4 linked regions of the Homo sapiens genome follow. The protein of the gene in region 4 purifies or fractionates together with the protein of the main gene of each other region. This does not show direct contact. Each region holds a gene or a part of one and is shown on either strand. Other genes may lie near its edges. The genes, in order: LMAN2L, DIPK2A, KIAA2013 and TMEM106A.

What was found.
Region 1: the proteins of TMEM106A (region 4) and LMAN2L purify together in Homo sapiens (co-immunoprecipitation; 2 studies listed by BioGRID and IntAct, with this or other methods). This does not show direct contact.
Region 2: the proteins of TMEM106A (region 4) and DIPK2A purify together in Homo sapiens (co-immunoprecipitation; 2 studies listed by BioGRID and IntAct, with this or other methods). This does not show direct contact.
Region 3: the proteins of TMEM106A (region 4) and KIAA2013 purify together in Homo sapiens (co-immunoprecipitation; 2 studies listed by BioGRID and IntAct, with this or other methods). This does not show direct contact.

What each region holds. Positions count from the first base shown.
Region 1 is NC_000002.12:96,709,053-96,716,087, reverse strand, and holds part of LMAN2L (VIP36-like protein isoform 2 precursor), read left to right. Parts: intron 1-2,948; coding exon of another isoform or gene 2,949-2,981; intron 2,982-4,062; coding exon 4,063-4,224; intron 4,225-4,317; coding exon 4,318-4,432; intron 4,433-7,035. UniProt on the Homo sapiens protein: May be involved in the regulation of export from the endoplasmic reticulum of a subset of glycoproteins. May function as a regulator of ERGIC-53.
Region 2 is NC_000003.12:143,988,791-143,992,871, forward strand, and holds the end of DIPK2A (divergent protein kinase domain 2A isoform a precursor), read left to right. Parts: intron 1-719; coding exon 720-1,051; 3' UTR 1,052-3,578; downstream 3,579-4,081. UniProt on the Homo sapiens protein: May play a role in cardiomyocyte proliferation through paracrine signaling and activation of the PPI3K-AKT-CDK7 signaling cascade.
Region 3 is NC_000001.11:11,923,407-11,931,389, reverse strand, and holds the start of KIAA2013 (uncharacterized protein KIAA2013 precursor), read left to right. Parts: upstream 1-4,962; 5' UTR 4,963-5,152; coding exon 5,153-6,185; intron 6,186-7,900; coding exon 7,901-7,983.
Region 4 is NC_000017.11:43,214,865-43,220,566, reverse strand, and holds the end of TMEM106A (transmembrane protein 106A), read right to left. Parts: intron 4,780-5,702; coding exon 4,626-4,779; intron 4,119-4,625; coding exon 3,978-4,118; intron 3,871-3,977; coding exon 3,827-3,870; intron 3,309-3,826; coding exon 3,255-3,308; intron 2,887-3,254; coding exon 2,766-2,886; 3' UTR 526-2,765; downstream 1-525. UniProt on the Homo sapiens protein: Activates macrophages and polarizes them into M1-like macrophages through the activation of the MAPK and NF-kappaB signaling pathway.

The sequences.
Region 1 (7,035 bases), on a different chromosome or scaffold from region 4:
TTTGGCTTTGTGTTTATATATATATGAGTACCTGTGAACGATATTTGTATCTAGAAATACACTAGTCACTGATTGAATGTTTATTGACTCCCTCCTGAACACCAAGACATTGTACTAAATGCTTCGCATATCTCATTTCATCTTCATAATGAACCCTGTGAGCTTTGTATTGTTCTGTTTACAGTGAGGAAATAGAATCTCAAAGAGGTGATGTAATCCACCGAAGGGTTACACAGCTATAAGTGACATAACTGCAGTTAGAACTCAGGTCTCCCTAATTACAGAGGCCATTTGGAATTTTAGCCTAGAATCCATAAATCCACAAGCTAATGGGTGTCTTTTCCATCGAAATATGCTGAAGATACAGTTATCCCGTAGAGGTCTTCAAAAAACACTTTTTTAAAAGTAGTCTTGTAGTACAAAAAGTTGAAAACATTTCTCCACCCTTTAAACAACAGTCCTTTGGATGATAAAACAGGTGAGAGTTTCTCCTTTCTGGTGACTCTTAAATTAGGAATAAAACTACCACCTTGCCTGAACCAGTGTGATTCTTCAATCTTTGGTTCTAACTTACAGAGTGCTTTCTAGGGGAAAAACAAAATTGCTCCTGTGTGAAATTAGTGGTTATCCAAGAAATACTTCCAGGAACTCTTGACTAGGCGTAGAAAATAAGATGGCATTTAGTGACTTACACTAATGTGAGGTTAAAAGTTGAAGGCCAACTCGTGTTGCCGAAGTAGACAGATTCTCTGTAGTTGCAAAGCTGTGAGGCTCCCTGTCTGGTGCAGCGTTTCTTCAATTTGGCTGCACATCACAGCCTTCTGTGGTGCTTTTTAAAAATACATAATCCTGGCTGGGTGCGGTGGCTCACGCCTGTAATCCCAGCACTTTGGGAGGCCAAGACGGGCAGATCACGAGATCAGGAGTTCGAGACCAGCCTGACCAACATGGTGAAACCCCATCTCTACTAAAAATACAAAAATTAGCTGGGCATGGTGGCGAGCGCCTGTAATCCCACCTACTCATAAGGCTGAGGCAGGAGAATTGCTTGAACCCAGGAGGTGGAGGTTGCAGTGAGCCAAGATTTCGCCACTGCACTCCAGCCTGGGTGACAGAGTGAGACTCCATCTCAAAAAAACAAACAAAAAACAATCCTGCACCCCACTCTAGCCATACGAATGAGACTCTTTGACTGAGGGACCCATGTATACGTGCAGTTAACAAGCTCCTTCAGGTGCTCCCAAGGTCCAGCATGCCTCTGGCTGTTACCTGGAACTGGGTCCACACCAGCCTTGGGAAGAGTAAGGCACCCTTAGGCTAAGGATTGCTGTCTCTTTATTATTTGTTTATTTTCTAAGCAAGCTAACATAGGAGATTGCTATCTCTTTAAAGTTGCAACTTAAACTTCTAATCAGGGTTACTAGAGGTGATGAGTGAAGGAAGCCTTGGGCTCATCAGAGCTCCACAGGGCATTTTTAATCCCTTTTTCTTAATTGTCACTGAAATTATGAGCATACTCTCAGATGCCAGTTTCTGTAAACTGCTTGATAACATGCTCACCATTTCCTTGTTCTAAATGGTAGTTGTTGAAGATTAACTTCATGCCAGTTTAATCATCCACGGATTGATGTCATGCCTTTCTGTGTCCTGTATGAATTCTGCCAGTGGTGTTAAGAGGAGGACGGCAGGGGATCTGCACTGCAGCCTCGGACTCCTGGCTGTGGCCCATGGAGCCCAGTGCCGTGGGTGCTGCCTTGCCTCATGGCAGCCTCTTCTCACAAGCTGTGATTCTGACTGATCTGTTTCCAGTTCCTTGAATGTGCCACCCTCATGCTTCTTGTGCCCTCAGATCTTTTGGTGGACTCCCTCTAATTACTTGAGTCTCAGCTCAGATATTGCCTCCTCAGGGAGAGGTTCCCTTGCCCATCCCTTGTATTACCTATTTTATTTTCCTTATAGCATTTTTCACTATCTGAAATAATTTTATTTGCTTCTTTGTTGTTTGTTTCTTCCACTCTGATCTTAATTCCATTCCTGTCTGTCTTGTTTCTCTTTGGACCCTCAGCATCTGGAACAGTACCTGGCTTGTAGTAGGTGTTCACCGTATTAAAGGAGTGAAGGGTTTGAGTTCTGTACCCTCGCCTACCTGTCCCACAGGGCAGAGCTGAGCTGAGCTTGTGTAGGTACCTCTTGTCGCTAATGGCTTAGAACTGCAGCTGTTTGCTGGAGCAGAGCTTAATACCCTCACGCCTGATGATTTTCTAAATCTGTCATTCTGCAATGCCTCCATGGAGCTTCTTCCTTGCCTATGTGTGGTAGGTTAGAATGACAATAGTTATTTGGGAATATATGACCATAAGGCTCAGTTAGAGGGTAAGTGATCCCTTTGGATTAGAGTTAGTTTCATAGTCTCTCAAGTGGCAAGATTTTGGTCTTCTGGGCAGGAGCTGTTTCCTGAGATCCTGGATAGTAAAGGATGTCTTGAATTTGGAAGAATTTAGCCCTGTTGTCTCCTCTTTCCCCTTGCTATAGAAATACAGTAGGCTGGGTACAGACAAACTTGAGACTGACTCCCAGAGACATAAGTGCGGCGTGCCTGGACAGCGTACTGCTATGTGTTTTATAAAGTGCCTTCCAAAAGCTTCAGGACCCTCTATGGGTTAGAGCGGTCTTCCTAGGGGACCCCTTTGAGAATCTGATATAGTAACAGACCCTCTCCTCAGAAAAATGTACAAGCACCCGTGCATATGGTTTTGCCTATCATCTTGAGGGTGCAAAGACTTCACGGATGCCCTTCAGGGACCCTAAAATTCTGTTTGGGGATTTAAGTTGGTTTGTTCATCCATCACAGCTGGGTCATAGCTCTTCTGTGGCTGTGTCTTTCTGACTTGGTCTCCTGTCTTCTGTGCCCTCTCTTGTTTTTATCATAACCTGCTGGACCCTCTCAGGCCCAGAAGAGGCGATATTCTCCAGGAGTCCAGGTACTCAGTTCTTGGCTCATCATGAGCATCCCTCATTCCCATGTGTCCATCCAACATTTGTTGCTGTTTCAAGTCCATGTGGTTGTCTCAGGAGTCCCCGGTCTCTGGTCTCGACTGCATCTCCATCTTGCATGTTAACCATTTGGGACAAAGGGACAAATACTCCCCAAAGGAGTGGCATGCCTCATGTTACCCCTTCACCACCTCACTACCCTGCCTTTTTGCACTGCCTTGGCATTGGGCTTGTTCTGGAATGATTAGTTCGCCATTTCTAAGGAAGAATTGCTCCTACAACTCTACTGGGGAGAGAGGGCCCCTGAAATAGATGGGAAAATGAGTGGCTTATGGGAAAACTTGCAATTTTCTCCCTGTTAAGGGAGAACCTTGCCCTCTTATTATTATTCGGAGAAGTTACGTGTGGAGGAGGCTTAAGTGGGCTGGAAAGTCTTTTGACTAAGGACAGTCATTGTGGCTGGCTGAGCCCATCCAGCAACCCCGTTCCATGTTCTGAGTTCTAATCCATTTAGCCTTATATGCTTATAGAATTTTAGAATTGAAAAGAGCTATCCTGAATGGAAAGATTCCCCTGCTCAAACAGGTATTTTCAGAATACCCGCTGTGTGCAGAACCATGGTTGGGAGGAGATGGGGCTGAAGTTTAGACATATGAAGACGTGATGAATGAATTTTTTCTTCAAGAAGCTTATGTGGCAGTTGGGGAGATAGGTACATATACACGAAAAGGAAACCCCTGGTATTAGGCGGCACATAAGTGCCAAATGGTGACCTTGGGGCATTCAAGTCAGACTCCAGCGTCTTAGGAGGACCACTTCAGGCCCACCCCAGTTCAGGAGCCAAGAGAATTACTGAAGGCAAATACCAAGTGTAGTCGCTTCCTGGGCCCATTTCCCTTGAGAGACCATCTGAATGTGGGCTCTCAGGGGCTGCTGACAATGAGGTCGAGTGGCTGCCTATTCTGCTGTAAGGGGCTCAACTTGTATGTGCTGAATTCCTGTTGCTGTTTGTACAGGCGTTCCTATGTGCTCTTCCTTAGTGTCTGCTTCCCCCTCTCTGCTTTCCAGCGGGTATTCCCCTACATCTCAGCCATGGTGAACAACGGCTCCCTCAGCTATGATCATGAGCGGGATGGGCGGCCTACAGAGCTGGGAGGCTGCACAGCCATTGTCCGCAATCTTCATTACGACACCTTCCTGGTGATTCGCTACGTCAAGAGGCATTTGACGGTGAGAGTCCTTGTCCTGGACCAGATGGTGGTGTGGGCTGTGTCGCTCTTGCTCCCATGGCCTGACCCTGATTTATCTCTCTTTTTATTCTAGATAATGATGGATATTGATGGCAAGCATGAGTGGAGGGACTGCATTGAAGTGCCCGGAGTCCGCCTGCCCCGCGGCTACTACTTCGGCACCTCCTCCATCACTGGGGATCTCTCAGGTACTGCCACGCGCACTCTTGGTTTGCCCTGACTGAGGCCTCTTCTCAATACCCACACTTCATTGAGGCCTCTCACAGGGGAGAGCCAGAGGAGCGGTGCTCTGGAAGGAGGTGCCTCAAGACTGCTTCTCCTTCTGCATTCTTATATCCACATTCCTTAAAAACCCACGCCAGGCTTTCCTAGTACAGTTGTCACTAGAAGATGGTTGGTGCTAATAGAAAGCAGTGTTTGTCCCTTCATTAAGCTGGCTCTTCTAGCCTGTATCGTGAGTTCCTTGCTTTCTGATTTCTGCTGTCAGGCTCCTCTCCTTCCAACCACTAATGTTCCCCGTTCCCCTTCCTTAACAAAGCTTTTCCTTGACTTTGCCGTCCCTCTTCTGACCCCAGACTCTCCTTTTGCTGAGACTTTTGAATGTGTTGTGTGTACAGATCCTTTTGTTTCCTAGCTGTCCACCTCCTTAACATGCTGACTCAGACCTGTGCTCTATCTTGCTAGTACACTAACACCATTCTCATGAAAGGTCATTCTGTTTCCTTGCCATATTCAGTACTCTATTCTCGTTCTCACCCTTTGTCCTCCTCAGCTCATTTAACCCATTACCCTGAAACTCTTGCCTTCTTGACTTATGTGACATTAACAGCACCTGGTTCTTTTACTTTTCCATCTCCTCTTGTTTCTTTTTCTACTTATGCCTGATTCGTAGCTTCTCGTTTATACACTTACTCTCTTTGCTTGAACCCCAATCATAACATCTTTTGGGAAGAGAAAAGGAACTGAACTTCTGTTTCTTTTGATTAATATAATTTGTTCTGGATAAAGCTAGTTTGGAATAGAAGTTTCTTGTGGCAAAATAGAAAGGCAGATACCCATCTGAAAAAGCCGACAGCTAGTGAGCTCCAGCCATTGTAGCTAAAAGGAAATGTCAGCTCAGTGAGGCTAAATCTTCCAGTTTTTCAAGAGCAGTTGGAATTCTGGATTTTTTTTTATATATATATATGGAGTCTCGCTCTGTCGCCAGGCTGGGGTGCAGTGGCGCCATGTCAGCTCACTGCAACCTCCACCTCCTGTATTCAAGCGATTCTCCTGCCTCAGCCTCCCAAGTAGCTGGGACTACAGGCGCGCCACCACGCCCAGCTAATTTTTGTATTTTTAGTAGAAACGGGGTTTCACCATGTTGGCCAGGATGGTCTCCATCTCGACCTTGTGATCCGCCCGCCTTGGCCTCCGAAAGTGCTGGGATTACAGGCATGAGCCACTGAGCCCAGCCTGGATAATCTGGATTTTTAAAATGCAATCTGCTGATCTTTAAAACTCTGGCATCTGATTTTTTTAAAATCAACTTTACTGAGGTGTGCTTTCCATACAACAGAAGAATACAGTTTGAAGAGTTTTGACAAATATTTACACCTATGTAGTCACCATCACAATTAAGATATGAATGTTTCCATCACCTGCCAAAAGCCTTATTATCCCCCTTTGCAGTATTCCTCCCCTTCTTGGATTCCAGGCAACCATTGATCTGCTTTCTGTCATGCAGAGAGATTAGTTTTGGCAATTAGGTTCTAAGTACCGAGCAGGCCAGACCTGTGGGAAAAATTTAGTCTCGGCAGGGGGATAGGAGGCATAGGCTGGAGATCTTTGCTATATAATCTCATTATATGACTACACATTTTCCTTTGAGCTTACAGGTTTCTGGGTTAACCTCCTGACGTACTTTTTAATGGAAAGTCCCCAACTGTCAGAAATGGCAGGGGAGAATAATTTTTTGTTTAGTCTAAGTTTTTTGCCCTAGGTCTTTAGTGAGAATACCCAAGTTAGTAAGTCTGTGTTCTCTGCCCATAGGGTATCCCTAAATGCAAGTTGTTTCTTTCTTTTGAGGTCTTTCTTGTTGCCATCCTCTTACTTGTTGTATAGTAGGTTGTTGAAAACTGCTGAGAAAGTTAGGATGTTTCCCAGCCGTTCCAGGCTTTAATGCCCTGCATTGCATGAGGAGCATTGCCCTGGCCTTTTATCCTGTCCCATGGTTTAAACTGAGCTCTGACAGTTAACATTTTTCCAACAGAAGATGAATCCAGTTTTTCACTACCTGGGAATCTGCTAAAGATTCTAGCAGTCCAAGCAGCTGTGGATGCTCTCCTTATAAATGACCAGAAATCCAGGCCCCAGTCAGTAACCAACCTAGTAGCAATGAGCACCCCTAGCACTCAGATTTGTGGTCTCTAAATACCAATTCCCCCTAAAAGGAACTGCAGCTTCCTTGAGAAATGGCTGATGCAGGGTTTGAGGTAGGAAATCTATAAGTTGGAACTTCCCAGAAAAGCAAGGAAGTTATAAAAAACTTCTGGGTTTATGTAAAGAGACGCAGGAGCCAAACTGAATAGGCTCCTACTTGACAAAGACAGGTGAGTTGAGCATCAATAAGAATCTAACTTCAGGCCAGGCGCGGTGGCTCACGCCTGTAATGCCAGCACTTTGGGAGGCCACGGCAGGTGGATCACCTGAGGTTGGGAGTTCGAGACCAGCCTGACCAACATGGAGAAACCCCATCTCTACTAAAAAAAAAATACAAAAAATTAGCCGGGCGTGGTGGTGCATGCCTGTA
Region 2 (4,081 bases), on a different chromosome or scaffold from region 4:
GAACCTTAAACTTTACCCATATACTTAATTATTTTTGCCTGAAATGTTTCTCCAATCTAGCTTTTCATTCTGGGCCATCTATAGTTGCTCTCATGATCTTAATCCTTCCAATCTTCAGCCCAGAGTTATCTTTCTATAAAATAAATTATGGTCGTGATTACACAAGTTACGACCTATTTTTCTAGCGTCACCTGTATCTCCTTGCCAACTACGTTTCTCACACTCTAGCCACAGTGAACTTATTGCTTCGTGAACCAAATGGAGCAATCCCTTATGTCCATGTCTTTGCATATACTGTGTCCTGAACCTAGAATGCTATTTTTTCCTAGTTTCTTTTCAGATTTGTTTTCTTTTAAGACCTAAATCAGATGTTCTCCTTTTTGCAGCCTTCTACAGCCCCAGGGACAAGTGCTAATTTAATTCCCCACTATTCCTGTAGCATTGTGTCATATTTCTTTATGGCACTTTCTGTGTATGATGGAAAGTCGCTAGACTAAACCTGTAAGTGGTAGAGACCTTTCTGAATCTTTCTGCCTAGCGTTAGTGGGCTCCCAGTGAATGTTTGTATGAATTTATATATTTAAATGTTTATGGTTATAATATACTTTTACCTAAAAGTGTAGAACAAATACTATTAATTAGTGAAATATTCTATTTTTGGAAGCAATGAAAACTATTTAAAAAATTTTTTTCTACTTCTGCTTTTCCTCCTTTCACAGATAAACCTGAAAATTGGGATGTATGGTATGAAAGCAAGTTTGATGACTGTGATAAGGAGGCTTGCTTATCATTTTCAAAAGAAATTCTTTGTGCTCGTGCCACTGTGGACCACAATTACTATGCTGTTTGTCAGAACCTCTTATCCAGACATGCCACCTGGCGTGGCACTTCTGGAGGACTCCTTCATGATCCACCAAGTGAAATTGCCAAAGATGGCCGGCTCGAGGCCTTGCTGGATGAGTGTGCCAACCCAAAGAAGCGCTATGGCAGATTCCAGGCTGCAAAAGAACTGCGTGAATACCTAGCACAATTAAGTAACAACGTGAGGTAGTCTATGGTGAACTTTTCTTTTTTTCTCCATTTAAACAGCACTGGCTAAAACTAAACCACCAAAAAACGATCTGAAAAAATGAAATTTGGAAGTGTTACATTCAGAGGATGATAAACTTGCACTGATAGATCTTAATGTTAACATCCATCAAAATAAGACATTACTTCAAAAATCACATGATGCTTCTGCAAATAAGTATGTTCTTATACTTTGGAGGCTTGAGCTGTCATCAGCTGCTCCCCACTACCCCGGAATGCTTGAGTGGATTAATGAATATTGTTAAGCTATTGGAAATGAGTCTGATAGTACATTGGCTTGTGTATCAAAGGGTACTTGGTACTTAGTTTGCATTTACTATCATGATTTTGTGAATCTCTTGCATTTACTTTGAATGTCAAGTCAGATTGGTCTGTTTTATAGGCCGCTTTTTCCTTCTGATGTGTAGGGTTTTTTCCCCCTTTTTTTTTTTAATTAAATTTTGAAAATTCAGGTTACTGTAGGTGTTCATTTAAATTTTTAATAGTTGTCATTCAGTGCTATTTGGTACATATTTACTGTTAGGGCAGGATTCCCAGGTTTACTGTGTTTTTTTTTTTTTTTTTTAAAGAAAGCTAAATATTACATTATGTAAATACTTCTTTTCACCAACTTCTGTAGTTTCACCATTGCATGGTGTCATTTCAGGTTATTTAACAGTTATATCCCTCTATGCCAATAATTAGAAGTGTACACTAAACATGAAGTTTGGCATATGTTGCAAAATGTCATTTTATCTTTTCTAAAGGCTTTAAGAAGAATATACTAGAATCTATATATTGATGTTAATTTTGATTCAGAAAAAAAATACAACCCAGTATCTAAAAAGTGTTAACTAGTCCAAGATAGTAATGCATATGCCAAAGAAATATTACACCTAATCTCATGTTTAGAATTTAAAATAGAATTGGTCAGCTACTTATTCTTACCACCCTACTTCCAGTATTTTAGCTCTGTCATTATTAAATTCAGATCTTCCTGATTATTTTTTCTGTTGAAAGTTAAACTACTGCTTTCAAGTAATTTAAAGTTATCCTACCTTTTATTCATGGGTAGTTTTGCAAAATTAACATGGTAGCCATTGTTTGAATTTAATCGGGCATCATAACTTTTCATTTATTGAGGAACTAATCATTATTACTATAAAGCATACAAATTAGCCAGTCAGCACACTTTGGTCTTCTTTACCTAAGGGTTAAACATCAGAACATCAAATTTAATTATTTGCATAGAAATGTGTGGGCTCTTTATATAAGTTGACTATCACTAACAGGTAATATTTTTCTGTTTGAAGTTGTTACTTTTGTTTACAGCAAAGTTTGATGTAGTGTGCAGTAGTGAGCTCTAGACTGATCTTTTTCTAAATCAGAAAGTGATTAAAGTATGCACAACCAAAGGCAGGTTTTTCTTTTTCATTTATTCAGCAACTATTTATTAAGCATCAACTCTGTGCCAGGCACGTTACTAGCTGCTACATACTGTCTGAACATGACATACGGTTAAGTAACTTTACAATTATTATCAAATACTTCAATGTAGATATTTCTTAAGTTGAAATAGCATTAACTAGGATAATGCTTTCATGTTATTTTATTGTCTTGTGATAGAAATTCAACTTGTACCATCTAAAACTAGGTTGCTATAAAAATAGGAGGATGAAGTCAATAAAGTTTATGCCAGTTTAAAAACTGGAAGGAAAAGGTAAGAGCTCTCCATTATAAAATAGTTGCATTCGGTTAATTTTTACACATTAGTGCATTGCGTATATCAACTGGCCCTCAATGAAGCATTTAAGTGCTTGGAATTTTACTAAACTGACTTTTTTGCAACTTTGGGAGATTTTTGAGGGGAGTGTTGAAAATTGCCAAACACTCACCTCTTACTCAAAACTTCAAATAAAATACACATTTTCAAGAGGGAGCACCTTTTATATTTGATAAGTTTTCATTATAAACCTTATAATACCAGTCACAAAGAGGTTGTCTGTCTATGGTTTAGCAAACATTTGCTTTTCTTTTTGGAAGTGTGATTGCAATTGCAGAACAGAAAGTGAGAAAACACTGCCAGCGGTGATTGCTACTTGAGGTAGTTTTTTACAACTACCATTTCCCCTCCATGAAATTATGTGAAATTTATTTTATCTTTGGGAAAAGTTGAGAAGATAGTAAAAGAATTAGGAATTTAAAATTACAGGGAAAAATATGTAAGTGAAAAGCAATAAATATTTTGTTCACTTTGCTATCAAGATGTTCACTATCAGATATTTATTATATGGCAGCAATTTATATTTTTAATCATTGCCCATTAATAGACGCAGTAAAATATTTTTGAATCAGACATTTGGGGTTTGTATGTGCATTAAAATTGTCTTTTGTACTGTAAGTTACTGTTAATTTGAATATTTTATTGAACTGTCTCCCTGTGCCTTTATAATATAAAGTTGTTTCTACAACTTTTAATGATCTTAATAAAGAATACTTTAAGAATCACACTTTTCAGACTATTTCTTAACTTCAGATATCCACATTTTTCTTGAGTGGAAAGTGAGTTTGAGTAGATAAGTTACTAGTTTCCTCTTGCATGCACTTTAATTAGAATTTTGAGGGAACTATCTGATTGGGTGTGCACCAGGCTTTAAGGTTATGTGTGTTTTCTTTTTCTGTAGTAGTGAGTTTTTAAAAAACTTTTACCACTAAAATGGAATTAAAAGAAAAACTTCATTATGGAAATTTTCAAATGTATGCAAGAGAATAACATAATGAACAGTAGTATATCATTACACTAACTTCAAAAGTTAACAACATGTGGCAAAACTAGTTTCATCTCTAAACTACTTGCTTCCAGCTTATTTTGAAGCAAATCTGAGATGTATCATTACATCTCAGATTTATATTACGCATTTTCTCCTAGTAAAACACAATACTTTTTTTTTTTTTTTTTTTGAAACTGATTCTCGCTCTGTCACCCAGGCAGGAGTACAGTGGCACGATCTCG
Region 3 (7,983 bases), on a different chromosome or scaffold from region 4:
ACAAGTGATATCCATAGGCATGGGGCAGCAAGCTCAAGGTCCCAAGGCAAGTAAAAGGAAGAGGCCTGAGCAGAATCCAGGGCCCCTACCTCCCAGCTGGGATCCAGGGCTGGGAGTTTCAGCATCTGGAGACAGGACTTGGTGCCAGAATCCACCGGATGTTTTGGATTCAGGAGGATGCAGACTCAGACTCCAGACCCCTGGAGGAAGAGGAAATGCCAGGAGGAGCAGAGGGAGGAGAATGAGCATTTGTTGGCTGGTTCCATGTTCTCTTTTTTTTTGAGACAGGGTCTCACTTTGCTGCCCAGGCTGGAGTGCAGTGGTGTGATTACAGCCCACTGCAGCCTCAACTTCCTGGGCTCAGGTGATTCTCCCACCTCAGCCTCCTGAGTAGCTGGGACTACAGGCATGCACCTTGCCTGGCTAATTTTTTTTTTTTTTTTTTTTTTTGTAGAGACAGGGTTTCACAATGTCGGCCAGGCTGGTCTAAAACTCCTGAGCTCAAGACATCTGCCTTCCTCAGCCTCCCAAAGTGCTGGGATTACACGTGTGAGCCAATGCTCCCGGCCCCTGGTTCAGTTTTCAAAACTCTCCCTCATTCCCTGCTCGCAACAGCCTTGCTAATTAAACAGTATTGCCCCATTTGCAAAATGAGAAAACAGACCCAGAGAAGTGAAGCAATCTGCTCGACGCCACACAACTGATGCAGAACTACAGTAAGGGAGGCAGCATTGGAACCCAGCTCTAACCCTCCATTTGCTGTAGTCCAAGGAGAACCTCAATGGTGATGTACTATGAATAGAAAAAAAAAACAAAACCTTGAGGCCAGGTGCCATGACTCACGCCTGTAATCCCAACACTTTGGGAGGCTGAGGTGGGAGGATCCTTTGAGACCAGGAGTTCAAGACCAGCCTGGGCAACATAGACCCGTCCCTCCGCCCCCACCCACCTCCCGTCTCCACAAAAAAAATTAGGAGGGCATGGTGGTGTGCGCCTGTAATCTCAGCTTCTCAGGAGGCTGAAGTGGGAGGATCACTTGAGCCCAAGAGGTTGAGGCTGCAGTGAGCCGTAATTGTACCACTGTACTTCTGCCTGAGTTACAGAGTAAGACTCTGTCTCAAAAAAAAGGAAAAGAAAAAACCCCTTGGGCAGTGGGAGTCCCATGCCCAAAAGTCATTTTAAGTCAGGAGGGGGAATCAATCTTGGAGGCTGCTGGCCTCTCTGGGAGAAAGGATTCACTCTGGCAAAGCCTGCCCTCTCCTCCTTTGGTATCTGTTTCCTGTTCCCTTCACCAAATTGCTGAAACTTGAACCCTGCCCAAGCTTCATGGAGAAAGGGGGCCTGTCTCTTTAACCAGTGGTGGCTGCCGTCCAGATGTTACTTCTGGTACGTGCTGCACGTGCTGTGGACAGTTAAAGGCGCAGGACTCAGATTTCTAGGGAAGGTGTAGAAAGGATAGCTGGCCTGGAGGGCAGCTGCCCGGTGACATGAGGGGCTTTTCTCATTTTCATCCTTTTCTTTTATTCATTTCCTTTTTTGGCCCCAGGAAGAGCAAGGGCTTCGGTAGGATGGCCATATTCTGTGCTGCTAGATGGATGATCACCTCTCACTAGCACTTAAGCCTCCCTAATAATAATAATAGTAAAAATAAATCATAATAAAATGTCCTCTTTCTTTTTTTTTTTTTTTTGAGACAGAGTCTCACTCTGTCTCCCAGACTGGAGTGCAGTACCTTAAGGCTGGGCACGGTGGCTCACGCCTGTAATCCCAGCACTTTGGAAGGCTGAGGCAGGTGGATCATCTGAGGTCAGGAGTTCCAGACCAGCCTGACCAACATGGAGAACCCTGTCTCTACTAAAAATACAAAAAATTAGCCAGGCATGGTGGCACACGCCTGTAATCCCAGCTACTCGGGAGGCTGAGGCAGGAGAATTGCTTGAACCTGGGAGGTGGAGGTTGTGGTGAGCCAAGATCGTGCCATTTCACTCCAGCCTGGGCAACAAGAGCGAAACTCCATCTCAAAAAAAAAAAAGCCTAAACCTCAGCATCACACAATATCCCCTTGTAATAAACCTGCACATGTACTCCCTGAACCTAAAATAAAAATTGAAAAAAAAAAATAAAGAAGGTTAAGTGTGGTGGCTCACACCTGTAATCCCAGCACTCTGGGAGGCCAAGGTAGGAGGACTGCTTGAGTTCAGGAGCTCAAGACCAGCCTGGGCAATGTGGCAAAAACCTGCCTCTCCAAAAAATACCAAAAAAAAAAAAAAAATTAGCTGGGCATAATGGTGACGGCCTATAGTTCTAGCTACTTGGGAGGCTGAGTTGGGAGGATCACTTAAGCCTGGGAGATGGAGGTTGCAGTGAGCTGTGATCGTGCCACTGCACTCCAGCCTGGGCAACAGAGTGAGACCCTCTCTCTAAATAAATAAATAAATAAATAGGACTGGGGGTGGTGGCTCACACCTGTAATCCCAGAACTTTGGGAGGCCACGGTGGGCAGATCACAAGTAAGGAGTTCCAGACCAGCCTGGCCAACATGGTGAAACTCCATCTCTACTAAAAATACAAAAATTAGCCAGGTGTGGTGGCAGGTTCCTGTAATCCCAGCTACTCGGGAGGCTGAGGCAGGAGGACTGCTTGAACCCAGGAGGTGGAGGTTGTGGTGAGCCGAGATCGCGCCACTATACTCCAGCCTGGGCAACAAGAGTGAAACTCCGTCTCAATAAATAAATAAATAAATAAGGCAGGCGCAGTGGCTCACGCCTGTAATCCCAGCACTTTGGGAGGCTGAGGCAGTTGGATCATCTGAGGTCAGGAGTTTGAGACCATGCTGGCCAATGTTGTGAAACCTGGTCTCTACTAAAAACACAAAAATTAGCCAGGTGTGTTGGCTGTAATCCTAGCTTCTTGGGAGGCTGAGGCATGACAACTGCTTGAACCTAGGAGGCAGAGGTTGCAGTGAGCTGAGATTGCACCACTGCCCTTTAGCCTGGGGGACAAAGTGTGACTCTGTCTCAAAAAAATAAAAAATAAAAAAAAATAAAAAAAATAAAAAAAATAAAAATGGTAAGCAGACTGTAGGACCACCTGGACAGTTCCTTCTAAAGGGCACTGGCCTCAGCAAACATTTCTGTGTCTGCTCACAGCCCACCAGAGGCCACCTCAAATGACCGTTTAATTTCCAACAACTGGGAAGCACTGTCTGGCTTTGGAATGTACTGAAACCAAAGTGGAAACAATCACCCATTGTCTGCCTCTGTGCTTATATTGAATTTTTTTCCCAAAATACAAAGCAATATTTATCTTTTGCATCGATGATTCACAATTTAAAGCCATTTTCAAAGTATGAGACGTTAGTGTCTTATGTTATTTAATAAGTTAAAACTTAGGACTGACATCAAGAAGACGATTTGGTGTAGTGGAGACATTGATGGCCCTTGGCTGGATTTGTGTCCACGTGTGGTGTGCATGCAGCTAGACAGGTCTGTTAACAAAATATTTTTGGGGAAGTCTAGTTTCTGGTGGTTAGTTTTTATTTTATTTTTTATTTTTTTAGACGGAGTCTCGCTCTGTTGCCCAGGCTGGAGTGCAGTGGCGCGATCTCGGCTCACTGCAACCTCTGCCTCCCTGGTTCAAGCGATTCTCGTGCCTCAGTCTCTCAAGTAGCTGGGATTACAGGCGCCCACCACCACGCCCAGCTAATTTTTGCATTTTTATTTTTTTATTTTTATTTATTTATTTTTTTTTTTTTGAGACAGAGTCTCCCTCTGTCACCCAGGCTGGAGTGCAGTGGCGCGATCTTGGCTCACTGCAAGCACCGCCTCCCGGGTTCACGCCATTCTCCTGCCTCAGCCTCCCGAGTAGCTGGGACTACAGGCGCCTGCCACCACGCCTGGCTAATTTTTTATATTTTTAGTAGAGACAGGGTTTCACCGTGTTAGCCAGGATGGTCTCGATCTCCTGATCTCGTGATCTGGCGGCCTCGGCCTCCCAAAATGCTGGGATTACAGGCGTGAGCCACCGTGCCCAGCCTAATTTTTGTATTTTTAGTAGAGACAGGTTTTCACCATGTTGGTCAGGCTGGTTTCGAACTCCTGACCTCAAGTGATTTGCCCATCTCAGCCTCCTAAAGTGCTGGAATTACAGACGTGAGCCACCACTCCTGGCCTCTGGTGGTTCCCCTTCCCCTCCTCCTCCCTTTTCCTTTCTTCTTCTTTCTTCCTCTTCTTCTCTCTCCTTTTTTTTTCCTCCACTTTTTCGTATTGTTCCAAGTGTTTTTTTGCAGTGAGGATAGTCTTTTTTTTTTTTTTTTTTTTTGAGACAGAGTCTCACTCTGTCGCCCAGGCTGGAGTGCAGTGGCGTGATCTCGGCTCACTGCAAGCCTGCAACCTCCGCCTCACGGGTTCAAGCAGTTCTCCTACCTCAGCCTCCTGAGGAGCAGGGATTACAGGCATGCGCCACCACGCCCGGCTAGTTTTTGTATTTTTAGTAGAGATGGGGTTTCACCATGTTGGTCAGGCTGGTCTCAAACTGCTGACCTCGTGATCCGCCCGCCTTGGCCTCCCAAAGTGCTGGGATTACAGGCGTGAGCCACCGCGCGCGGCGAGAGGATGGTCATTTTTACAGAAACAAAGTTGTTGTGTGTGTGTGTGTGTATGTTTTTAAATTTTGGGGCTGTTGAATCCATCAGTAGCAAAGGGGCCCAACACGTGTTCGGTTTGGCTGGCTCGATGTTTTTTTCACGAGTGAATTGGATGCTTCCAGTCCTCCCCAGACCCCTGCACTTAACTCCACTGGACTTCACTCTTCCGGCCTGGGAACGAGTGGTCCCGCCCCCGGCAGCTTTTGTCCCGCCCTCGCCGTGGCTCCGCCCCCTTCTCTCCGGCCTGCTCTCTCTCCTCCCTCCGCCCTCCCGTTTTCCATCTGTCGTAAAAGACACGGCGACGCTTGACCGCCGGCGTCGTTTGACGGCTGGAGGCCACCGAGAAGAAGGAGGAAGCAGGGGTGGCGGCTGCTGCGGCGGTTGCGGCGGGGGCCGGGGTGGGCGCCGCGGTCCGGGCCGGGCAGTGAGGCGCGGGCGGCCGGGCCGGTGGGCTGGGCGGCGGGCCCGGCGGCCGCCCTCGCACCCTTGCCCGCGCCTGGCGGCCCGATGTGGCTGCAGCAGCGGCTCAAGGGGCTGCCGGGACTGCTGTCGAGCAGCTGGGCCCGCCGCCTCCTCTGCCTGCTTGGCCTCCTGCTGCTGCTTCTGTGGTTTGGGGGGTCCGGCGCGCGGCGGGCGGCGGGCGGCCTGCACCTGCTGCCCTGGTCCCGCGGTGAGCCGGGCGCCGCCGAGCCGTCTGCCTGCCTGGAGGCGGCCACCCGCGCCTGGCGCGGCCTGCGGGAGCGCGGTGAGGTGGTACCGCTGGGTCCTGGAGTGCCGGCCCTGGTGGCCAACGGCTTCCTGGCCCTGGACGTGGCTGCCAATCGGCTGTGGGTGACTCCCGGGGAGCGGGAGCCCGCCGTGGCGCCGGACTTTGTGCCCTTCGTGCAGCTGCGCCCGCTGAGCGCGCTGGCTGAAGCTGGAGAGGCGGTGCTGCTGCTGCGGGAGGGGCTTCTGCGCCGCGTGCGTTGCCTGCAGCTGGGGTCCCCAGGTCCTGGCCCCGTGGCCGCCGGCCCCGGGCCCGCCTCCGTCTCTGGCCTTGCCGCGGGGTCCGGCCGCGACTGCGTGCTGCTGCAAGAGGACTTTCTGGCGCACAGGGGCCGACCCCACGTCTACCTGCAGCGCATCCAGCTCAACAACCCCACGGAGCGCGTGGCCGCGCTGCAGACTGTGGGGCCCACTGCCGGCCCAGCCCCCAAGGCCTTCACCAGTACCCTGGAGAAGGTCGGAGACCATCAGTTCCTCCTCTACTCAGGCCGGTCCCCGCCTACGCCCACTGGGTTGGTGCACCTGGTGGTGGTGGCCGCCAAGAAGCTGGTGAACCGCCTCCAAGTGGCTCCCAAGACGCAGCTGGATGAGACGGTGCTGTGGGTGGTGCACGTCTCTGGCCCCATTAACCCCCAGGTGCTCAAAAGCAAAGCAGCCAAGGAGCTCAAGGCGCTGCAGGACTTGGCACGGAAGGAAATGCTGGAGCTCTTGGACATGCCAGCGGCGGAGCTGCTTCAAGACCACCAGCTCCTCTGGGCTCAGCTCTTCAGCCCAGGTGAGTCCTGGCCAGCGCTTGGTCCACCCTAGATATGTCCCTCCCAAGTCTGCAGAGGTGACACTGAAGGTGATGGTGGGGTGGTTGAAACTTGGGCTTGGCGTTTCACCAGTGGTTGAATCTGCTCAACTGCTTAGTGTCTGTGCGACCTTTGGATTCGTCGCCTAATCTCTCTGGGCCTGTATTTAATAACAATAACGCCTACCTCAGAAGGTTTTTATGAGACTGTAGTGGACAATTGAGTGTAAAGGTCAATTCTTTCTGTTACTTGTTTTGGTAGATGGGGCCTGATGTGAGCAGAGTGAAGTGTTTTAGAGTCAGTTTGCAGAGGTGAAACCAGCAGGTGGATCCCCTGATTCTTTGCTCAGCACCGCAGTCGGCCTGGTGACAGACGTGGGCTTCTTGACATAACCCCTGCTAGGCTGAGGTGCGTCCTGGCAGTTGTGGCTGCAACTGGTTCACAGGGAGGTTGGAGAATCCCTTTTAGCAGGTTGAGATGCTCCCGCCCGATGAAAACTCTCCTCTCGTTGACTGTTAAAGAAAAGAAAATCCTGTTCTGGATGAGAGAGGGGTTTTGGTTTCCAGGGTTCCAATTGTCTGAACCTTTGTGTTTGGTTGCTCAGAGAGTTGAGTTCATTCAGCAAGTATCTATTGAATGCTTCTGCCAGGGCTGTTCTATGCATGGGGGGGTGCAGATGGGAACCAGAGTTCCTGTTCTCATGGTGCTTGCTTAAATTCTGGTTGGGAGGAAGACAGACATTAGAAAAGTGAAAATTAAAATTAAAATAAGGCATCTTTTTAGGCTAGAATGTGCTGGCTGGGCGCGGTGGCTCACGCTGTAATCCCAGCACTTTGGGAGGCTGAGGCAGGTGGATCACCTGAGGTCAGGAGTTCAAGCCAACCTGGCCAACGTGGCGAAACCTTGTCTCTACTAAAAATACAAAACTTAACCTGACCTCATGATCCGTCCACCTTGGCCTCCCAAAGTGCTGGGATTACAGGCGTGAGCCACCGCGCCCGGCGAGAGGATGGTCATCTTCACAGAAACAAAGTTGTGTGTGTGTATGTTTTTAAATCTTAGGGCTGTTGAATCCATCAGTAGCAAAGGGGCCCAGCACGTGTTTATTCAGCAAGTGTCTATTGAATGCTTCTGCCAGGGCTGTTTTAGGCATGGGTGGTGGCCTGCACCTGTAGTCCCAGCTACTCAAAGGCTGAGACGGGAGAATCACTTGAACCCGGGAGGCGGAGGCTGTAGTAACCTGAGATCGTTCCACTGCACTCAAGCCTGGGCAACACAGTGAGACTCTGTCTCAATAAACAAATAAATACATACATACATAAAGCTACAAGACTGGAGAGAGAAAGGACAGAGAGGAGAAGTGGCCTGAGACTGGCCTCAGCACTGGTGACTGATCTGGCGCAGGATGTCTGACCATAGGGTTGGTGCCAAGTCCTGGCTAAGTCTGTGTTCCTCTGGGCTCTGGCACCAGGCCCCGCTGCTTTTTAACAGGATTCTAGATTTCAGGCCCACAGGCTCAAGTTGGTCGTGTAAACAAGACAGGCTGACTTTCTTCTATACTTTAGGGAGATGGGCACCACTGTCTTTATCATTAAGGCACAACACCTCACTCTTCTGCTGCCCTTGGTCTTTATTTCGTATGCTCTGCCTCCCAGCTGTCCTTCCCCCTTAACATGCCGCTTTCATGGTGTTGCAGGAGTGGAAATGAAGAAGATCACTGACACCCACACGCCGTCTGGCCTCACCGTGAACCTGACGCTCTATTACATGCTCTCCTGC
Region 4 (5,702 bases):
GAACAGGAATAGTAAAATTGGAAGAGACTTTAGAGATACACAATGGGAGCAAGAGGGAGAGTGAGGTCCTGTGAGCAATCTCACGGAAAACAGAAGGGCAGGATATGTCATCAGTGGCTCAGAGGCCTGGGGAAGAAACCTTGCTGCCCGTTAGAACATTAAGGAAACAGTTTCTGCCAGGTGCAGTGGCTCATGCCTGTAATCCCAGCACTCTGGGAGGCCGAGGCGGGCAGATCGCTTGAGGCCAGGAGTTTGAGACCAGCCTGGCTAACATGATAAAACACTGTCTCTACTAAAAATACAAAAATTAATTTGGTGTGGTGGTGCATGTCTGTAACCCCAACTACTCAGGGAGTCTGAGGCACGAGAATCACTTGAACACAGGAGGCAGAGGTTGCACTGTGCCAAGATCATGCCATTGCACTCTAGCCTGGGTAACAGAGCGAAACTGTCTCAAAAAAAAAAAAAAAGAAAAGTTTGTGAAATAGGGAGTATCCACTAGCTCCCTTCCCACTCCCAGGAGACTTTTTTGAACACTCTTAAGTATAGTTTATTGAATACAATATAAATACTTCACATTTGGCAGTCTATACACAGCAGCTCCAGCCTGGCTTCCCTGGACTTTTGCGCTCTTGCCAACACCACCCTGACCTCAGCTTGGAGACAGCAGTCTCCTTCCTTCCCCTCGTTCCCCCAGCCAGCTAGTTACCAAGTTCTGTCACCACTTCTCCCTCTCCATGCATCCTACTTCAAAATTAGCTTTCCCTGCTCACCTGTGTTCATCGTTCTGTCTGAATGATAAAGAGACAGCCATCTTTTTTTTTTTTTTTTTTTGAGACAGAGTCTCGCCCTTGTTGCCCAGGCTGGAGTGCAGTGGTGCGATCTTGGCTCACTGCAACCTCTGCCTCCCAGGTTCAAGTGATTCTCCTGCCTCAGCCTCCTGAGTAGGTGGGATTACAGGTGTGCGCCATTACGCCCAGCTCTTTTTTTTTTTTTAAACGGGGTCTTGCTAATGTTGCTGCTCATGTTAAACTTGAATTCCTGGGCTCTAGAGATCCTCTCACCTCAGCTTCCTGAGTAGCTGGGACTACAGGTATATACCACTGCACCCAGCTGTAAGACCAAGCCACCTTTAATGAACAAATATCCTTCCTGTTCTGCTAAAGTACAGAAACTATTTCTACTAGGAGCCAGTGGGAACCTAGGGGTTATCTGGAGCTTAGCTCCAGCTAAGTGACAGGAAAGGGAGGGTCTAGACCAGTCCCTGCTGATGTGCTGCTCCACATTGTCAAAGCCCAAGGAGAGATGAGGCCTCTGGGACCAGAGAGGGCCCTGGTGCTAAGGTGGTGGTGGAACAGAACCCAGCAGCCTTCAGCTGGATACTGATAGCTTCATCTCCTGAAGGCTTTCAGATGACAGCAGCTGGACCCACCGTTTTACCTACCTGTGTCCACTCACATGGGCTCAGGATGTGGACTTAGAGGCTCTCCTTTAATAAATATCTTATACAATGATTCTGTCTTTGGCTCTGTTTTTCCTGTGCAGGCCCGCAGAGTGCCAGGTGCCTCTCTCCCCTCCTCTACTATTTTGGCTCCTGCTATGAAAAGAATAGTAAAACTACTTTATAGAGAGGAGACGCTTTAGCTGGAGAACAACTCTGTCTTCCTAGGAACCAGGGACAGTCAATAACCAGAAAGGACAGAGGGCTAAAGGGCCTTGGCTAATCTTACTATCAGATGGGTGGCAGACAAGTTACCAGAGAGAAGCAGACTATCACTTTTTCACATGGTCAAAGCAGATAGGCACAGAAAAGCATCTATGATCCCCTGAAAGTCCTTGGAGATGGCACTGGATATCCCCAAATTTTCTTATCAGAGGGTAGAAAACTTGAAAAGAGTCTTTTTTTGAGACAAAGTTTTGCTCTTTTGCCCAGGCTGGAGTGCAGTTGCACGATCTTGGCTCACTGCAACCTCTGCCTTCCGGTTTCAAGTGATTCTGCTGCCTCAGCCTCCCGAGTAGCTGGGATTACAGGCGCATGCCACCACACCCAGCTAATTTTTGTATTTTTAGTAGAGACAAGGTTTCACCATGTTGACCAGGCTGGTCACGAACTCCTGCCCTCAAGTGATCCACCCACTTCGGCCTCCCAAAGTACTGGGATTACAGGTGTAAGCCACTGCGCCCAGCCGGCAGGTCCATGTTTTAAAAGCCAGATAAAACTACAGCTCTCTCCACATTCAGACGGGACAGCCAGCCCTGATGGAGCTGGGGTGAAATGCCCCCTTCAGACTGACCAGGTGCTCAGTACAGAAAGGCCAGGTGCCACTCCAGGGAATCTAAGGTGCCTCAAGAAAATGCCAGGTCAGATTTTCCTCAAGAAAGACCAGCCAGGCACAGGCTCACATCTGTAATCCAAGTGCTTTGGGAGGCCAAGAAGGGAGGATCGCTTGAGCCCAGGAGTTCAAAACCAACCTGGACCAACAGTGAGACTCTGTCTCTACCAAAAAAAAAACAAAAAACTAACCAAGGGCAGAATCTGATGGCAGCCCCTGAAAGAATCTGGGGGAAACTGGAGGATATGAGTGTGTGTGTATGAAGTTAACTTCAAAGCAAGCTTCCTGTGCTGAGGGGGTGGGAGGTAAGGGTGTGATGAGGCAGGGCTTCTCCTTTGGCAAAGCCTCTGTAGTCCTTCCTTAGTCACCAGGGAGTTGTGGGAGATATAGACCAGGGTTGCAGGTGCCTGGAGTACAGGGACAGCAGACAGGTCATGGTGGGTGAGGGGTCAGCTGGTGGGGCACAGATGCGTTTCCTCGGCAGTCCACATATTCATAGCTCTGAAAGACCAGCTGCTCTGAATGGCTCAGGTATGAACAGGTCAGGGTGCCCCTGGAGAGGAAGCAGGCCTTGTTGCCATGGCTGGGAGGAAAAGGAAAGCTCTGGCCCCATTATACTGTCTGGGGGTGGGGAGCGGGGAGCTCCCTCATTTGCCCTTCCCTCTGGCTCCCCACTCTGCCAAGGTACCTGGGACAGCTGCCCCACCTGTTTTCCAGCAGCTTCCAGACAGCCCTATGCCTGTTGCCCCTAATAACTTATAGGCAAGGTGAGACTCAGAAAAGGGGCTAGACTTGCTATTCCCAAGAGCCAACAAAGATTCATGGGGTCAGCTTGGAAGACTCTCTGCCCATGAGGTGTAGCTGAGTGAGAATGAAGTCAGAAGTGAGAGCAGGGATACCAGAGCTCCAAGCTCTACTTACTGGATGTGCAAAAGCACATGGTGGACTTTGATTTCCAGCCAGGTACAGATTTTGCTGAGAGAGAAGAAAAGAGAACGTGGGACCACGTGTCACATGGAGCAGCCTGTCAGCTCAGAAGATGCCTGCAGGTCCCAGTTTCCTTACCCCACAGAACTCTTTCCTTCCATCAGGTGCCCCCAAAATGTCACTCCCACCCCTTCCCACCCTTCAGGTGAGTGTAGCAGCATGGCTGCACTATCACTCTGACCTCCACTCACTTGGCCCAGGCACATGCTGGACCCCCATTCAGGAGACAGACAAAACATTCTTCTTCCTCAGCAATGCAGGCTGAAGAGCCCAAGGTCACATATTGTAAAGATTAACCAAATTCCAGCCTGTTTTTCATTCTAATCAAGGTCCAAACAAGCAGAGGCTGGGGACCCTGAACCCTTGCTTATTACATTCTCGGCCATGGGAGGGCAGGCCAGATGCTGGCTGAAGAATTTGCTAAGCAATCAGGAAAGCTGGTGGGTATTAATTGGGTCCCTAAGCCAGGCAAGTGGCTAGGGGAGAAGAGATCAAGGGGTACTCACTATGTGTTTTCATCCCGTATCTTGGTAGCTACTGCGTAAAACATCTGTCAACCAAATGGGCACAGGGTTAGCCCCAACTCCAGCTGCCCCTTTCCCACTACCACACATCCACACACCAGTGGGCAGGGCTGGCCAGGGAGAGGGGAGTCACCTGTTCACTGGCCAAAGGGCCAATGTGTAGGAGAAGGTTGTTGGAAACCTGCCCCACCACGAGGGACAGGTGCAGAACCTCGAGGGTCAGCTGTGTCACCATAATGGGGTAGTAGTTGCCATTGGAGATGTTTAAGATATTCTGGGGATGAAGACAAGGGAAGGGAGGAGTGAAGATGGCCCATCCTTAGGAAAAGCCAAACAGTTGCAAAAGCCTGGCTGTCTGGCCTGAGCCCCATCTACCATGACAAGCTTCAGGTGCAGAGGATGAAAACTGGGAGCCCCTTGGAGGGGCATTGAATGGTGAGGGGTCAACTTTACGAAGTTAAGCTGCCTCAGGATCCAGGTCCATCCTGTACAGCTTCTTTCCATTCAGTCCTGTCCATCCAGAGAGTCTCAGGCACTGTCACCCCACTCCACCCCTGTGGTTTACTTATCTGGCCCGGATTCTGACCCCTTACTGTGTAGAGTCCCAATCCTTACCATCTGTCATGGAGCTCATGGTTGCTCCTACTTCTCTTCAGGCTCCCAACACCCTCTGGGTGCCATAAGATCTCTGGCTTCCCATGCCCAGGGTCATAACACTGGACAAAGGTTACAGCGAAGTATTGCTAGGAAGGGGGGTTTGGAGCCAAGGGCACCCACCCACCGTTATGTTGAGGTAGATATCAGCCTCATCAAAGGCCACTGTGGAGGAGTTGAGGCCTGCAGGCTGCACAATGACGGACCGGGGAAACAGGAAAAAGACGATGAAGGAGGAGGTCACCAGGCAGATGAGCACGGCCAGGAACACAAAGAGCTTCCTGTGGGAAAGCAGGACCCAGGATGGAGGAATGGAAAAGTCTGAACACCAAGGAAACTCGGAGAGGGGGTTCAGACACTCCTCTCCATATACAAAGCTTTCCCCTGCACACTACCCCAACAACATTTAGCTCCCCAGATGTGGCCCGGAATGAGTAGGAGCACAGGATTGGCAGGCAGGCAGCCTGGTTTCCACTCCCAGATCTCTGTTCCCATTGACCCAATAACATGGAGCAGCCCACTTAGCCTCCTTAAGTCTCAGTTTCCTTGTTGGTAAAAGGCAGATAATTGTACTGACCTCACAGAATTTGTTATCGGCTAATATATGAAAAAATACTAATCACAGGTCCCTGCACATGGCAAAAGCACAATGAATGCTAGTTATTATCACTAGAAGAAATAAGTCCATATTTGGAAGTTCTGAATTTTAACATTCAGAACAGGACACCATCCATCCAATTCAAAATTCAGATATGCATTAAAGAGATAGTACTTTGTTAGTATCTTATGATGTGCACTGCTAATTTCTTTTTTTTTTCTTTTTTTTGAGATGGAGTCTTGCTGTGTCGCCCAAGCTGGAGTGCAGTGGCACGATCTCGGCTCACTGCAACCTCCACCTCCCGGGTTCACGCCATTCTCCTGCCTCAGCCTCCTGAGTAGCTGGGATTACAGGTGCCTGCCACTATGCCCGGCTAATTTTTGTATTTTTAGTAGAGGCGGTTTTGCCATGTTGGTCAGGCTGGTCTCAAACTCCTGACCTCGTGATCTGCCCGCCTTGGCCTCCCAAAGTGCTGGGATTACAGGGTTTTTTTTTGTTTTTTTTTTTTTTTCAGATGAGGCCTCGCTCTGTTGCTCAGGCTGGAGTGCAGTGGCATGATCTTGGCTCACTGAAGCCTCCACCTCCTGGGTTCAAACAATTCTCCTG